Homo sapiens: one gene and its partner. The protein of the gene in region 2 binds, or shares a complex with, the protein of the main gene of each other region. Each region holds a gene or a part of one and is shown on either strand. Other genes may lie near its edges.

Region 1 (3,822 bases), on a different chromosome or scaffold from region 2:
CTACTGTACACTCTGCCCCAACCTACTGCTGCTCAGCCCTTGCTGTTCTTAAGACCACCTTTCTCCATAGTAACCCAATAATCAATTTGTTCTAAGTCAGTAGCAGACATCAACAGTACAAAATATACTCCTATACCACAGTACGAAAAATACTCAATGCACATTTATAAAATATTCCTCTGGGAAAAGTTTATGTAATTTTTTCTTACATATTAAAATTATAAAGGATAAACTCTCCCTTTGTTTTTGTTGTTCAAAACTGGTAGTTTTTCTTGAATTTTTATATTTATGTTTTTTGTCACTATCCACACCATATTTTTTCCAAAGCCTGAGCCACTCTGTGGTTCTTGCCCCAATATAACAATCATCCCTTCACTCTTAGAATTCCTTTTCCCTTGTCATTTTGCCTTTCTACAGTTTATAAAAAATGAGGACTTTGGGGAGGGAAAAAACCCAACATTTCTGTGAACTCGAGACTATAGGCAGTGCCTAAACCAGTAGGATCAGGCAAATAAAACTAGTTGGACAGCAGACATATCATGAACTCTTGCAACAGCGTGTTATCTGTGTGCATGTCTAAAGTGTTATACTGATTCACTATTACAATAAGGATCATGCAGTTGACCAGGGTGAAGCAGGACTGTCTACAGGATTATGTGAATTGTGGTGGTGGAGACAGTATACAAGATTAATGGATTAAAACCTAGCTGCTTTCCTGGAAAATGGCCTATGTTCTAAAAGACAAAATCTAGTTTTTATTTTTTTAATTTATGAAGCTACAAGTCAATAATATGCTAGTGCTTCTGGTTCAAAATGAAAGCAACTGGCTATGGTAATGTAGAGAAGACAGCAGGAATAGCACCAGAATGTTCGAGGCTTTTTAAGTTAAATTCTTAGTTACTTCACCTTACAAAGATACATGTCAATATGCTGAATACTCAACAAAGATCCAGGATATGGGCTATTTAAAAATACGTATCTCCTGGATCAGCACCAAAAATATCTTTAGTTTCTGTACAACCCACGTCAAGTTTTTAAGTGTAGGCAAGTCGAAATTATTTCTGATACAAATCACAAACTCCACAGAAATCATTCAAGATATATTCAAACAACTTTCAAATACATTTTGACATCAAGGTCAGGCAATTCACCTGGAAGAACATCTTAATAAGTACCAATGAATTTTTTGTAGTAAGATGTTTGATGTCAACCTTTTACTATGGGAATATTTTACATCTCACACAAAGAAGGCACTGGTACTTGGACACTTAAGACAATTACTAGAATCATTAAGACTAAGGTGAAGAATTTGTACAGTGCCTTCCACAATTTCAAAGAGGTCGTGACAGATACTTGTCCTCCTGGCAATATCAAATACAGTTTCTTCCCAGTTGTTTTTTCAGATCTGGTTTGAGGTTAACAGTTCACCAGTAGATGTTCTAGAGTAGCTCTGCTGTCTCTGATCCCAGCAGCAAGATGCAAGTGGGTCAAGAGACCTTTTGTTTGGTCACTGATAACTAATCTACACCATGCTGAAGAAATAAAGAAGCCACTCTGGTATTATTCCACTTATAAGCACCCTGCAGGGGTGTCCAGCTATCTACGGTCACTGCAAAAACTTCTGCCCCTTGTGCAATCAGCTCACAGACAATGTCTAAGTGTCCACCTTAGGCTGCTCGATGAAGGGGGTGATACACTCATCTTCATCCCTAGTGTTCACACGAGTGGTCTTTTCACAAAGCAGTCTCCACACTGGATAAGCCAATTATTTTCAGCAGCCCAAAAAAAATATTTGCTTGGATCTTTCTCTGTTTTTTTCTTGCATATCACTCTTGTTTTTTTTTCATCTTGCTCCTCTTCCTCATCAAAACTGCCATCTCAGAGACTCTGAGTACTAGTGGGAATAAGGTATCCACGTATTTCCAACAATTGGAGTTAGCTGAAGTGTTCAGAAAAGTCCAAGGAATTCTCTGGGTCTAGTTTTCCATCATCATTTACTTTCTCTTTTTCCATTTTTACTGCTGCTCTAAATAAAAGGCATTTCAAATGCCAGCATATAAACAATCTTTCTAGAGATAAATTATGCCTGCTTTACTTTACTCATCAAGATCCTATAGAGGGGGAAATTGCTGTATGCCAGGATAAATGCTCCTTTTGATCACGAGGTAATAAATGGAATACATTCATCCTCAATTACGGATACTAATGTTCAAATTCATTTTTAATTTTGAACACTTACTTGTACACAGTGATACAAAGTCTGATTTTGATTTACCTTCTGAATATCTCAAAAGCATGTCTTGGTGCTGGTGGGATGTTGCACTTTGGTGTGGCTGACTGAGTGGGCCAATATCCTGTCGTGAGCACCCGGACTGTAAGATCAACACCACCTAAAGATACCTATGTAAAACAGAAAGAGATATTCCCCTCAAAATTAACTAGGATTTGCTTTCTGTTCTGTTTAGACATTGTGTTAGATTTACCAAAGCAGTTAGCTCCATGTCTAATATCTAATTTAAAAAAAAGCAGATTTTCTTTTCTTTTTTTTTTTTTTTTTGAGACAGAGTTTCGCTCGTTGCCCAGGCCGGAATGCAATGGCACGATCTCGGCTCACTGCAACCTCCGCCTCCCAGGTTCAAACGATTCTCCTGCCTCAGCTTCCCGAGTAGCTGGGATTACAGGCATGCCCACCACGCCTGGCTGATTTTGTATTTTTAGTAGAGACGGGGTTTCTCCATGTTGGTCAGGCTGGTCTCGAACTCCTGACCTCAGATGATCTGCCCGTCTCAGCCTCCCAAAGTGCTGGGACTATAGGCGTGAGACATCGCACCCGGCAAAAAAACAGATTTCCTTAAAGGTTAGACCCACCCAGTGTTTCCCAAATTTTAACTACATGGCAAATAGCTTAATTATTGCTTATTATGTTAATTTAAAAACACTGACCAAAGAATAGTTTTTGGCACATAAATCAAGTCTTACTGTTATCACTGAGAACTGAAAAGTTTGGGCCTTTTTAAATAAAAGGTCAAGGAGGGTCAATTATATCATTTTAGAGAAAATTCTAGCATAATATCCTTCGTCTCAGTTTTAAAATATTTTTACTATCTTAATACATATTTCTAATATTCCAGCACCTATTTCAACTACAGTTAATTAAAACTTTTACGTTTTAGCATGTAGCTCACATTCTAACAACCTCTGCATACAGATCCAGTGCTATAACACTATAGATCCAGTGCTACAGAGCAGGTGCTCTACAAATATCTGTACAATGAATAACTACTTCTATGCTAGTATCAACTGTCACAATTATTTTCTTCCTTTAAACAAATTAAATTTTTAAGTAAACAACAATAAGGCACAACAAAAACTCTTAAAGATTAAATATTATTTCTATTATTGATATTCAGGATGTGTTATAAACCATCATTCCATTTTTATCTTACCTCAATGATTTAGTAATGTAAATTTTTAAGGGGAGGAATCAGTTTATGAATATCAAGAAGCATTCTACACTCCGATTTCTTCACAAGTATCCACTAAATGATTACTTAACTTTAAGGAAACTGAAAATAAACTTGGATGATGCACAGAAGAGAGGATCATAGAGGAGACTCTTAGATGGTGTACTGGGGGAGGTGGAGAACTGTTTATACATTCGCAAGTTGGTTAGGGGAAGGGAGGGTCACAAAGTGGACAGTCCATCCATCCCATATCAATATGCATGGGATCTAGCCCAATCTTCCCTATAGCTTTCAATGTGTAAGATTAGTGGAAGAAAAAAATTTAAAAACTTACTAGAGCAAACAAAAAAATACAAGA
Region 2 (3,822 bases):
TCTTCAGGCTTGTTAGCCAGGGTTGAAGAGCTCTGTCCTGCCCATATGGTACCACAAAGGAGTGGTAGTTTATTTCACCATGTCAAATAAAACGGCAGGTCTACTACCATAATGTGGCTTAAAGTCCTAAGAGCCAGGTTACACCTTTTCTGTAAGTCCTGGGCTCCATAGAGTCACACAGACCAAATGCAGAAATAGATTTCCTTGGCTAAGAGGTAACTTGGAGACATCTGCTTTGGAGAGTAGAGGGAAGGAAAGGCACCCCTCTGCTTGACTGTCCCCCATTGTCTGTCTTCCCACAACCACAGTTTTATTTTTTCTTTTCTTTTTTTTTTTTTTATTTTAGAGACTGGGTCTCACTCTGTCACCCAGCCTGGGGTGCAGGGGAGCAGTCATAGCTCACTGCAGCCTCAAACCCCTGGCTCAAGCAATCCTCCTGTCTCAGCCTCCCAAGTAACTGGGACTACAGGTACATGCCACCACAACCAGCTAATTTTTTTATTTTCATTTTTAGAGAAGGGGTCTTGCTGTGTTGACCAGGCCTATCTTGAACACCCAGGCTCAAGTGATCCTCCTGCCTCAGCCTCCCAAGCAACTGGGACTACAGGTACATGACACCACATCCAGCTAATTTTTTTCATTTTTAGAGAAGGTGTCTTGCTATGTTGCCCAGGCCTGTCCTCAACTCTCAGCCTCAAGCAATCCTCCTGCCTCAGCCTCCCAAAGTGCTGGATTACAGTCATGAGCCACTGTATCCCACCAACAACTACATTGTTCTCTATCACTGTAACCTGAGACAATTCCCTACCAAAAAGAGCAGTATAAAACTTGCTGGCAAGCAGGGCATGGTGACTTATGCCTGTAATCCCAGCACTTTGAGAGGCCAAGGCAGAACAATCACTTAGCCCAGGAATTCAAGACCAGCCTAGGCAACACAGGGAGACCTTGTCTCCACAAAAAATAAGCTTGTGGAGAAATTTTTTTAATTTCCAAATTATTAACAATAAAATGCCTACCAAAAAAGTGAAAAACACATATATACATTTTAATAAATAGTGGAACCAGGCCGGGCACGGTGGCTCACACCTGTAATCCCAGCACCTTGGGAGGCTAAGGCAGGTGGATCACCTGAGGTCAGGAGTTACAGACCAGCCTGGCCAACATGGTGAAACCCCATCTCTACTAAAAATACAAAAATTAGCGGGGCATGGTGGTGCAGCCTGTAATCCCAGCTACTTGGGGGGCTGAGGCAGGAGGACTGCTTGAACCCAGGAGGCAGAGATTGCAGTGAGCCGAGATCACGCCACTGCACTCCAGCCTGGGTGACAGAAGGAGACTCCATCTCAAAAAATAAATAAATAAATAAACAAATAAATAGATAGTACAACCACCTCCCACTGCTGGTCAGGAAAGAGCTCTCTTGTATTCATGTCCTTGCTCCTCCTGTGATATGTGAACAGTGTCCTAAAGCTGGGTTTCTGGAACCTCTACCTGATGTGTGTGTGCTCACAAAGAGAGAAAATGAGAACTAATCTGCAAGGATGCTCTGGTACTAAATTCCATAATGGTGGATGGGGGCAGGTTTGGTGTATGTTTGGGATAAGGATGGGAGTTCCCAGATAATCTTCTCCAAAGAGCTACCCAACCTCAGAGAGCGACCCCCACAAACCAGGCCCAGCCAAATCACAAGACGGCTGACCAAAAAGCTGGGTTTCCAGAAGCAAAAAAAAAGAGATAACATTTTTTTTTCACAGCTCTCCCTTCCCCATTCGATTTTCATGCTCACACAAAGTTATCAAAAGATCCCTCCTGTCCCAATCATCCCTGCCATATGGAACTCTCTTCCTTCCAGATGTGTAAGTGTACACTATTAAAGCATAACATGACACTCGGATATGTCGGGGCTTCCTCTGACACCCTCTTGCCCTTCCCAGACTGCTGACGCCTACACATGGGCAGACCACCTACCTGGTCCCTTCACTTACCTCTGGTAGTGTATCCTCCAATGACATAAATTTTTCCCTTACACTCACAGGCAGAGAACTCAGCCAGAGGATTGGGTAAGGGCGCCACAAAATTCCACGCATCCTGCTCGGGGTTGTAACACTCAACGTTAGAAACGGCCTGCCCTCCGATGGCATAGAGTTTTGAATTAACAGCCACAAGTTTGAAGTTAGACCTGAAAGAGAGACACAAAGGCCCACAGAGTTAGTTCTTCTGATCAATGAAAAGTGTAACAATGGCATGAACTACTAGACTCTCCTGAACATCTGAAGAAAATTCGCTCTCCCAGTTGGGGGCCATTCCGCCTGAGGACAGAGGAGGAAAGGATGGCTTCTCGAATCTCACTCCTGTCCCCAAGATTCCACGGGAATGGCACACTGTCCAAACACTAGCTATCGAAGATAAGCAGTTCAATACAACAAGTTATTAATCTTGTTCAGCCTTAGTCCAGCAACCAAAGACAATGTGTATACACTAAACTCCACACTTTCTTTCAGGGGCAGGCACAAGGGTAAGAGGGGAAGGCACCCACATCACCCCATTGTCTTTCACCTCTCAGAATGGGTATTTCATTCTTCCTACTGAGTAGTATGGCTTCATCTTAGGGACACACTGGTGCTGTCGAGACAGGCAGGTGCGAGGAGTGACTGCTAAAGGGTAGGTCAGGAGATCCTTGCACAACGAGTATACCTGAGCAAGACACTGGTCCTGCCTCCCGCCTCCAAGGGCATCTAACATACTGCTTCACAACATGTAAGATGGGGAGAGGTCAGCACTGAACAAATTCACAGTTTGTATTTATTTATTTACTAATTTATTTATGAAACAGGGTCTTGCTCTGTCACCCAGGCTAGACTGCAGTGGCACAGTCATAGCTTACTGCAGCCTTGAACTCCTGGGCTCAAGAGAGTCTCCTGCCTCAGCCTCTCGAGTAACTTGGACTACAGGTATGTATCATCATATTCAGCTATACTCAGCTAATTTTTTATAAACAGTTTTTTGTGGAGATGGCATCTCACTATGTTGTCCAAGATGATCTTGAACTCCTGGCCTCAAGTGATCCTCTTGCTTCAGCCTCCCAAAGTGCTAGGGTTATAGTTATAAGACACCACAACCAGCCTCAAAATATTTTGATCCAGCATTCTTAGGGTCTTTACATATGTTAATTCAACAAATACTTCTATTGACAAATGCTCATCTTTCATAAAAATAATAACTTGAAAAAGAGATGGACAATGGTTTCCAGCTCTATATTCAGAAAATAATTAAATGCTGCTTATCAGCTTCAGACACTAAATAAGTCTTATGATTTTTGAACTGAATAGTAACACAAAATTAATTTGTTTCGATATAGCACACAAAAGGCAGGAAGGATAAACTCTTGGGAGTGTTGGGTCAGTCTGCTGTGAGGTGTGCAACAGTCACAAGTTTACAAGAGGATGAGCAGCAGCATGATGCAACAGAAAAAAACCTGAGCACAAATCAGAAGACCTCGCTTCTAGTCCCAGCTCTGCTGATAACCAGCTATCTGACCCTGGTCCAACCACCTCACTTCCTCATCTGTAAAATGGGGTAACAGCCATCACAAGGTGGTAGAGATGATTAAATCAAATAGTCTATCAGAAACTACTACACAGAGATAAAATACTATCATTCAAATTTCTGTTTTCTAGTGTTTGAAATAAAGGTGCTAGACCAAGTGAATTTCAAGACCACATCCAACCCCAACACAATGATGTCTTCAAAAATAATAATATACTAAGAAAGAATGGAGGTAGAGGCTATGCACACACAAAAAACTTATATAAGGGAGTAGAT

What was found.
Region 1: KLHL42 (region 2) and CUL3 share a complex: the UniProt entries of both Homo sapiens proteins name them as parts of the BCR(KLHL42) E3 ubiquitin ligase complex.

The regions. Positions count from the first base shown.
Region 1 is NC_000002.12:224,498,088-224,501,909, forward strand, and holds part of CUL3 (cullin-3), read right to left. Parts: intron 2,401-3,822; coding exon 2,276-2,400; intron 2,131-2,275; exon of another isoform or gene 1,093-2,130; intron 1-1,092. UniProt on the Homo sapiens protein: Core component of multiple cullin-RING-based BCR (BTB-CUL3-RBX1) E3 ubiquitin-protein ligase complexes which mediate the ubiquitination and subsequent proteasomal degradation of target proteins.
Region 2 is NC_000012.12:27,790,065-27,793,886, reverse strand, and holds part of KLHL42 (kelch-like protein 42), read right to left. Parts: intron 2,180-3,822; coding exon 1,986-2,179; intron 1-1,985. UniProt on the Homo sapiens protein: Substrate-specific adapter of a BCR (BTB-CUL3-RBX1) E3 ubiquitin-protein ligase complex required for mitotic progression and cytokinesis. The BCR(KLHL42) E3 ubiquitin ligase complex mediates the ubiquitination and subsequent degradation of KATNA1.